Homo sapiens: one gene and its partner. The protein of the gene in region 1 interacts with the protein of each later gene in a pairwise test. Each region holds a gene or a part of one and is shown in the gene's direction. Other genes may lie near its edges. The genes, in order: ECE2 and CD86.

What was found.
Region 2: the proteins of ECE2 (region 1) and CD86 interact in a two-hybrid assay, tested with the Homo sapiens proteins (one large-scale study listed by BioGRID).

Annotation. Positions count from the first base shown.
Region 1 is NC_000003.12:184,282,328-184,286,146, forward strand, and holds part of ECE2 (endothelin-converting enzyme 2), read left to right. Parts: intron 1-1,457; coding exon 1,458-1,646; intron 1,647-2,635; coding exon 2,636-2,778; intron 2,779-3,150; coding exon 3,151-3,265; intron 3,266-3,819. Other genes in the region: EEF1AKMT4-ECE2 readthrough transcript protein, read left to right, coding at 1,458-1,646, 2,636-2,778, 3,151-3,265. UniProt on the Homo sapiens protein: Converts big endothelin-1 to endothelin-1. Also involved in the processing of various neuroendocrine peptides, including neurotensin, angiotensin I, substance P, proenkephalin-derived peptides, and prodynorphin-derived peptides.
Region 2 is NC_000003.12:122,103,851-122,107,669, forward strand, and holds part of CD86 (T-lymphocyte activation antigen CD86 isoform 1 precursor), read left to right. Parts: intron 1-2,347; coding exon 2,348-2,650; intron 2,651-3,819. UniProt on the Homo sapiens protein: Receptor involved in the costimulatory signal essential for T-lymphocyte proliferation and interleukin-2 production, by binding CD28 or CTLA-4.

The DNA of each region.
Region 1 (3,819 bases):
ACACAGAATGAATATTAAGGGATCTAAAACTTCTTGGTAAGTAGAAGAAGAGATGGCCTTTGGCGATTAGTGGAGCCCAGGTGGGCCTTCAGGTTGAGTGGGAAGTGGTTTCTGGGAGGAGGGTTAAGGGAATTGGCACAGAGCAGTGTTGAGTGTCTGTTTGCAGGTTTTCGCCCTGTTATTCAACAGATATTTATTGAGCACCTACTCTGTGGCAGACAGCTGCGCTTGGGTCTGAAATTACAGTGGTGAACAAAGCAAACCCAGCCCTGCTTTCATGGAGCCTCAGGGCCAGCAGGGGTGAGGCCACATGAGTTTGTACTGGACCCGAGCAGGGCCAGGGCCGCCATGGCCCTGGGGTCATCAGGCCTGGGCCACATTCTCACTCTGCCATCTGCTAGTTTGTGATGGAAGTCAAGCCGTGTCATCTTCCCAAGCTTCTGCCCTGGGGTGTGAAATGGGACTCATCTTCACTTCATGAAGTTGCTGTGTGGGGAGGAAAAGATACACTGTATGGAAAGCCTCTAATAGAGAGTCTGATGTATGTCTGCAGAAGTGGTCACTAAATATTTCTTCTCCATGCTTTTCTCTCCCTTGGAGACCAGCGGGTAGTGGAGAAAGCAGCTAGCTTGAGGCCTGGCAGGATGGGAGGTAATAGAGGCCTGAGGACACCATGGCCCCGATCCCCTGTGAGGTCCAGTCAGCTGTTCAGAGAAGGCACATGGTCACTGATGGGCTGGGACAACTAGCAGGGATCTAGGAAATGAGAAGGCAAAGCAGTATGGGAAGTAGGCCCATCTGCTGGACAGACATTTGCAGAGCACTTACTCTGTGTTCTAGTCCCTAGAGACAGCAGTGAGTAAGCTGCTGTAACTTGGAACAATGCTCTGCTGGAACTCACCTTCTCCTTGGAGAAATAGATGATAAACAAGTACAGAAGTAAGTAAACATGGCCGGGTGCAGTGGCTCATGCCTGTAATCCCAGCACTTTGAGAGGCCGAGGCGGGCAGATCACCTGAGGTCAGGAGTTCGAGACCAGCCTGGCTAACATGGTGAAACCCCGTCTCTACTAAAAATACAAAAAATTAGCCAGGCGTGGTGGCACACGCCTGTAGTCCCAGCTACTTGGGAGGCTGCAGCAGGAGAATCACTTGAACCCAGGAGGTGGAGGTTGCAGTGAGCCAAGATCGCGCCACTGCACTCCAGCCTGGGCAACAGAGTGAGACTCCATCTCAAAAAAAAAAAAAAAAAAAAAAAAAAAAAAGAAGAAGAAGAAGTAAGTAAACAATACTTAGCCAATGGAGGTAAGCAGTGTGTCAGAAATGAAACAGGTCATCCAGAAAGGCTTCCAGAAGGATCAAGCAGAAGAGATATTGGGCAGAGGTGGTGGTAAGAACAGATCTCAGCCTTGGGCAGGACTTGTTGCTGGGCTCTGAGGATCACCCGGGCCTTGACAGGTGCTCACTGCCTATCTGGATTACATGGAGGAACTGGGGATGCTGCTGGGTGGGCGGCCCACCTCCACGAGGGAGCAGATGCAGCAGGTGCTGGAGTTGGAGATACAGCTGGCCAACATCACAGTGCCCCAGGACCAGCGGCGCGACGAGGAGAAGATCTACCACAAGATGAGCATTTCGGAGCTGCAGGTGGGGCAGGCAGGGGGCTGGAGACAACTGAGAGGGGCCAGCCTTGGCATGGACCACCCAGCTTCCCTCCATGCCATCTCCCCAAGGCAGCCAGTCCTTTCCTCATTCCCTTGCTTTTCTGTGCTCCCCAGCTGCACTGCTGCTGTCCTGGGGAAAAAAATGGTGTCCATTTAGGCCACCTCTCACTGGGTCATCCTTTGGTCCCTTTCTTGCCTGGGGATGCATGGAGGGATTGTGTTAAAAATGTGTAACAGTTTGTATGAGATGTCCACAAAACAATCAGAATAGGCTGGGCATGGTGGCTGACATCTGTAATCCCAGCACTTTGGGAGGCCGAGGCGGGTGGATCGCCTGAGGTTGGGAGTTCAAGACCAGCCTAGCCAACATGGTGAAACCCCATCTCTACTAAAAATAAAAAATTAGCCGGGTGTGGTGGCACATGCCTGTAATCCCAGCTACTCGGGAGGCTGAGGTAGAAGAATCGCTTGAACCTGGGAGGCGGAGGTTGCAGTGAGCTGAGATTGCGCCATTGCACTCCAGCTTGGGTGACAAGAGCGAAACTCCATCTCAAAAAAAAAAAAAAAAAAAATAGAAGTGAAAGTTTCCACTGGGGGACCCGTACTGTGCCAGGCCATTAACACTTTAGATGTTGGATTATGGAAAAGTTGGGATGGAGTGTGGTTCTGGAGGAGAAGCCAGTACGTGCAGGGTGTTGGGAGTGGTATTTTATCAATTGTTAGGAAAATATTTGAATATCTAGGCCCCAGCTGAATGTCACATGTAGTGGTTATCCTTGTATAATAAGTGGTTGGGCTCCCAGATTGGAGGTGTCCAGGCCTGGAAAAGGGTATATTACAGGAAGGATACACCATGAAGCCAGTAGTTGTTGCTATGGCAATGGGAAGGGCTCCCAGGCTACAGCATACAGTGGGGGAGGGTTCTGCTGGAAGCGAGTCGGGCAGGCAAGGCCTGAGATTTTTTTCTTTCAGGCTCTGGCGCCCTCCATGGACTGGCTTGAGTTCCTGTCTTTCTTGCTGTCACCATTGGAGTTGAGTGACTCTGAGCCTGTGGTGGTGTATGGGATGGATTATTTGCAGCAGGTGTCAGAGCTCATCAACCGCACGGAACCAAGGTGTGGGGGTAGCCCAGGGTGAGGGTGGGTTCTGTGGAGGTCTCCAGCAAGGCTGGGCATAATGGACAGGCCCAGCCACACAGAACAACATTTGGTAATGCTATGGGCCTTCCAAACATTGAATCAGAATGTCTATGGGCTTTTCCTCTGCGCTAGGGTTGCAGGGTGCTCCCTGTGATCTCTGTCCCCCCACTGCTCTCCAACCTGACCTCTACAGGCAGGTGTGTGGCCCCGGGACCAAAGAGGAACCCCGGGACAGCTTCCACATATGCCTCTCGGGACTCCTGCAACTTGCATGTTCCTGGGGGCTGGTTTGAGGGGTGTGAAGGGCATCCCACCTGCCCTTTTCTTATTTTCTGGTCTGGTTGTCAGCATCCTGAACAATTACCTGATCTGGAACCTGGTGCAAAAGACAACCTCAAGCCTGGACCGACGCTTTGAGTCTGCACAAGAGAAGCTGCTGGAGACCCTCTATGGCACTAAGAAGGTGGGCTTTCTGATTTTGCCTCCACGTTCTGATCCAGTCTAACCGATGCTGCATACCTTCAGTGTGACAGGCACCATGTGCCTCATGGTGCACAGGTGCATAGTATGGAGCGCAGAATTTGGAAGCAAGCCGACTTGCGTTTCAATCCCAACTCATTCATTTTCTAGCCTGTAGGACCTTGGGCAGATCACCTAGCCTCTCTGACTCTCCATTTCCTGCTCTGTAAAGCAGGAATAACTTGGAGGGTTGTCAGGAAGAGTATTAGCTGAGTTAATGTAAGTGAAGCACCTGCACAGTACATGGTATGTATAGGCACTCGGCTTTGATGAGGAGGATGGAGAGGATATAATAAATAAGTGAGTATTTAGTTTCAAGATGCCCCATTAAGTGGGGGGAGTGGACATGTAAACAAATACATTATATTTTGTGGTGATAACTGCTCACACTGAGTGAAAGACTTTTCTGCTATAGGACAGAGGTGGGACAGCACATTTCACCTGGGGGGATGGTGGGGAAGGGCATCAGAGAAGCCTTCTCTGAGAGGTGCCATGTGA
Region 2 (3,819 bases), about 62 Mb from region 1:
TGTGGTCAATGGTGTGTGTTCAGATTCTTAGCCTTCTCAGATGAGACTGCAAATGAGTTAGAAAAACACTGGAGGGGGACTTGAGGGGCCCAGGGGAAAAGGGGGGTCTATAGAGAGAAGGCAGAGGACAGCCACTTCTGGGAAGTGCATTTGAAGGGAGTGTAGAGTCTGGGAGTAGGGAACTGAAAGTCTTTTGTACTTTTTATAGTCTGCTTCTGAAGGATCAGTAAAAATCTGCTTTGGGGAAAAAATAGAGCTAATTGAACAAAGATAATATGGCTAATTACCTATAGTAAAAACCATGGATAATTTGGCCATCACAAAGTTTATATAACCATAAAGGCCTCAGATGTCTTACATTCATTTTTTCCTTGGGTCCAAGATTTTTCACCTACTAAATCTTTGCCTGGAGCTCCTAGCAAAGCGGACAGCTGACACATTTGGGTTTTCCCTTCAGCCTCCTCTAGGTTGCTTATGAGTTGTTTGCTGCCACAACCATGAGCCTGGTAGACAGAAGGGAAAAAAACCCAACAAACATAACCCACAAACTTACAAACCAGCTCCTCTGCTTCACGAGACCTTGGAAGGCCTAAATGCCACTACAGATTTTTTTAAAACTATCACACAGTAAAATTATTTTTTTTTGTTTTGATATACTGTTCTACTGATTGTATAGATCTTGTATAGATTTAGGTAACCGCCACAGGACATAGAGCATTTCTATCACCCTAAAAATTTCCCTCAGGCTGTCCCTTCATAGAGTCATACCCTGTCTGCACTCATAACCCTTGTTGGGCATCCTATAGTTTTGTCTTTTTGACAGTGTCACATAAGTGAAGCCACACAGTATGTAACCTTTTAAGCCTGGCTTCTTTCGTTTAGCGCGCCTTCGAGATTCACCCAAGTTGTTGCACATATCGAGCTTGTCCCTTTTTATTGCTGAGTAGCATTTTATTGTTTATCCATTCAACTCAGTAAAAGACATTGGGTTGTTTCTGGTTTGGGGCTCTTATGAATAAGGCTGCTGTAAACGTTCATGTACAGGTTTTTGTGTGAACATAAGTTCTCAGTTCTCTAGAGGAAATACCCAGGTGTGGTATTACTGGATCCAGGTTAATTTTTGATGAAACTTGAAAAGGCAGATCAACACCTATTCTAAAACCATAGAGTAAAACAGAAGCAAAAGTAAAAATAGAATGGAGAGCTGCTCCCTTTGAACCCTGTGTGATTTAAACTAGGCTGCAGGGCTTTAGGAATAGTTAACCAAGTGCTAAATCCGTGTTTTCAAAATGTGGTCAGGTACCATTGGAAATGTTTTAGGTGGGACACAGATAAGCATTTTGAAAAGCCATGTTGTATTTGTTTTAATGTATATTAGAAAAACTCTAACTTACGCAACATGTGATTTCACAGATCTTGTTAATGAAGCTAAACACGGTCTGGCAATTCACCTTCTACAGGCCACATAGACTCCAAGAAGACTGCTCAAATAGTACACTGATATAGCAAAACTTATAAAGATGACATGCAAATGACAGACCTTTTAGTAAGAATACACTAAATTATAAATTAGTTTGTAGAACCTGCAAACTACCTAGTAACTATAAAAGAACAAGGGATTTTTTCTGACAGAAGGCACATGACACAGGTCTAGGGACTCCATGCCAGTGATCCTGAACAGCCAGAAAAGTGAGAATGGCAAAGGCAAGAGAAACACTGTGTTTATTAAGATCATGTATTTTTCCCTAAAATAGCTGGATTTGGCCTTCTTCTTAGAGTATGTTATGAAGACACTTTGATGCTCATGCCAAAAATCAGTGTTCTGAATTTCGAATTCCAAAATATCCACCCACTCACTTACCACAATCCTGCTTGGGTTTCTGAAAGATATGACGCAGGGCATCTCAGCACCATGAACTCTGTCAGTTCCTGGTGAGACTCCAGCTCAATTCCTTCCTGCTCTCTTAGTCTGGGGAGCTGGAATGTGCCCCATGGGACACCTGGGCCCTAGAGTCAGACCACTTCTCCTTCCAAAGACTCTACTCCCTGGAAACAGTGGCTTCATTGTAAATCTTTGGTGACTCAATTACAGCCCTCCTGTCACTTAGAGAGCACCCCTTTGATTTGGATAAGCAGGAAGTAAGCATGGCTGCAAACTCTATTGTTGAAAAATAAACATGAAGTCATTATGTGGCACTCACCTTGGGCTGAGGGTCACATTTTAGACACCCTGAGGCTCCCAGGTGTGCCCCAATGAGCCCCAGATCAAGTACCCAGTTATTTGCTATTCCCTCCTAGATACATCTAAACTTAGATTGATTTTTTTTTATCTCTCTTCTGCTTTCAGCTAACTTCAGTCAACCTGAAATAGTACCAATTTCTAATATAACAGAAAATGTGTACATAAATTTGACCTGCTCATCTATACACGGTTACCCAGAACCTAAGAAGATGAGTGTTTTGCTAAGAACCAAGAATTCAACTATCGAGTATGATGGTGTTATGCAGAAATCTCAAGATAATGTCACAGAACTGTACGACGTTTCCATCAGCTTGTCTGTTTCATTCCCTGATGTTACGAGCAATATGACCATCTTCTGTATTCTGGAAACTGACAAGACGCGGCTTTTATCTTCACCTTTCTCTATAGGTAAAGCTGTTTTCCAAGACTATTTCTTTCAGCAGGTATTATACACAAATGCTTAAGGCAGATCATCCAATGTCCCCGACTTGCTAGGAAACCTCCAACTGGGCCATTTTATGACGCTGTTAGGAAGGACCCAGATGGAGGTCTCCTGCTTCTCCTGAGTGATGCAGGGTCCAGGAGGCTACGAGCCTATGTTGCACTTGAAGAAATATGCTTTTAGCCCTGAAACTGACTCAGTCTCTTGGTTTACCTTTGGATGGAGGATTCTGAAGTTTTGATTTAAAAATACAGGATTCCTCCAGGCTAGAATTCTTTCTTTGATTACAACACATACATGCGCTTGCACACACACACACACACACACACACACACACCATGCATACATGCAGACATACAAATGATATTTATTGTGAGTATAGAACCATTTGGGACATTATTGGTCACAGGAGTGAAAACAAAAAGATATGACACCCCCTCTGCCCTTGAGGACCTTCCAATAGAATCAGAACCCTGTAATGTGCACACATGAAAAACTGGATTTTTAAAAGGTTGAATTGGAATCTAAATTTTATTCCATGGAAATATCTGACTAAATTTAAAATAAAAGTGACTGGTAATGAGATTTATGGGCATTCAGAGGTAGGCAAGATCCCTGAGGGTCAGGGAATGGTTCCTAAAGGAAGGGGTACCTTGTAACATGTAAAATAAATTATTGGGGTTAATAAATGTGGTGAGGAGGGGAGGGCATTCTGGATGACAGGTTCCCAAAACTGTGGTGACTTCCGTAGCTGAAAAAATTTGAGACAGTATCTGGGCTAAGCAGGTGAGAGGACCACAGTGGATCAGCTGTATCTGACGTAAGTGCAGGAGGTATGTCAAAGAAAGCCTTGGAGGCAGAAATGCTTGTGTGTTCACAAGTATTCTTCAGGGACAAGTTCAGTGGAGGAAAGGATTGAAACTAAGCAGTAGCCACTAATAGGAGCCTGACATTTTAAAGTCCTGGCTTTACCCAGGAGGGCATGTGTCTATATTTGACTCCTCTTTTAAGAAGCTGTAACTGCAAGATTCCCTCCTGGAATAAAGGTGGTCTGCATCTACCCTGTCCCATCACTGCCTGTGCTGACCTTGACACCCACATCTGCCTTCTTCTTACCTTGACCCCTTCTCCAGCG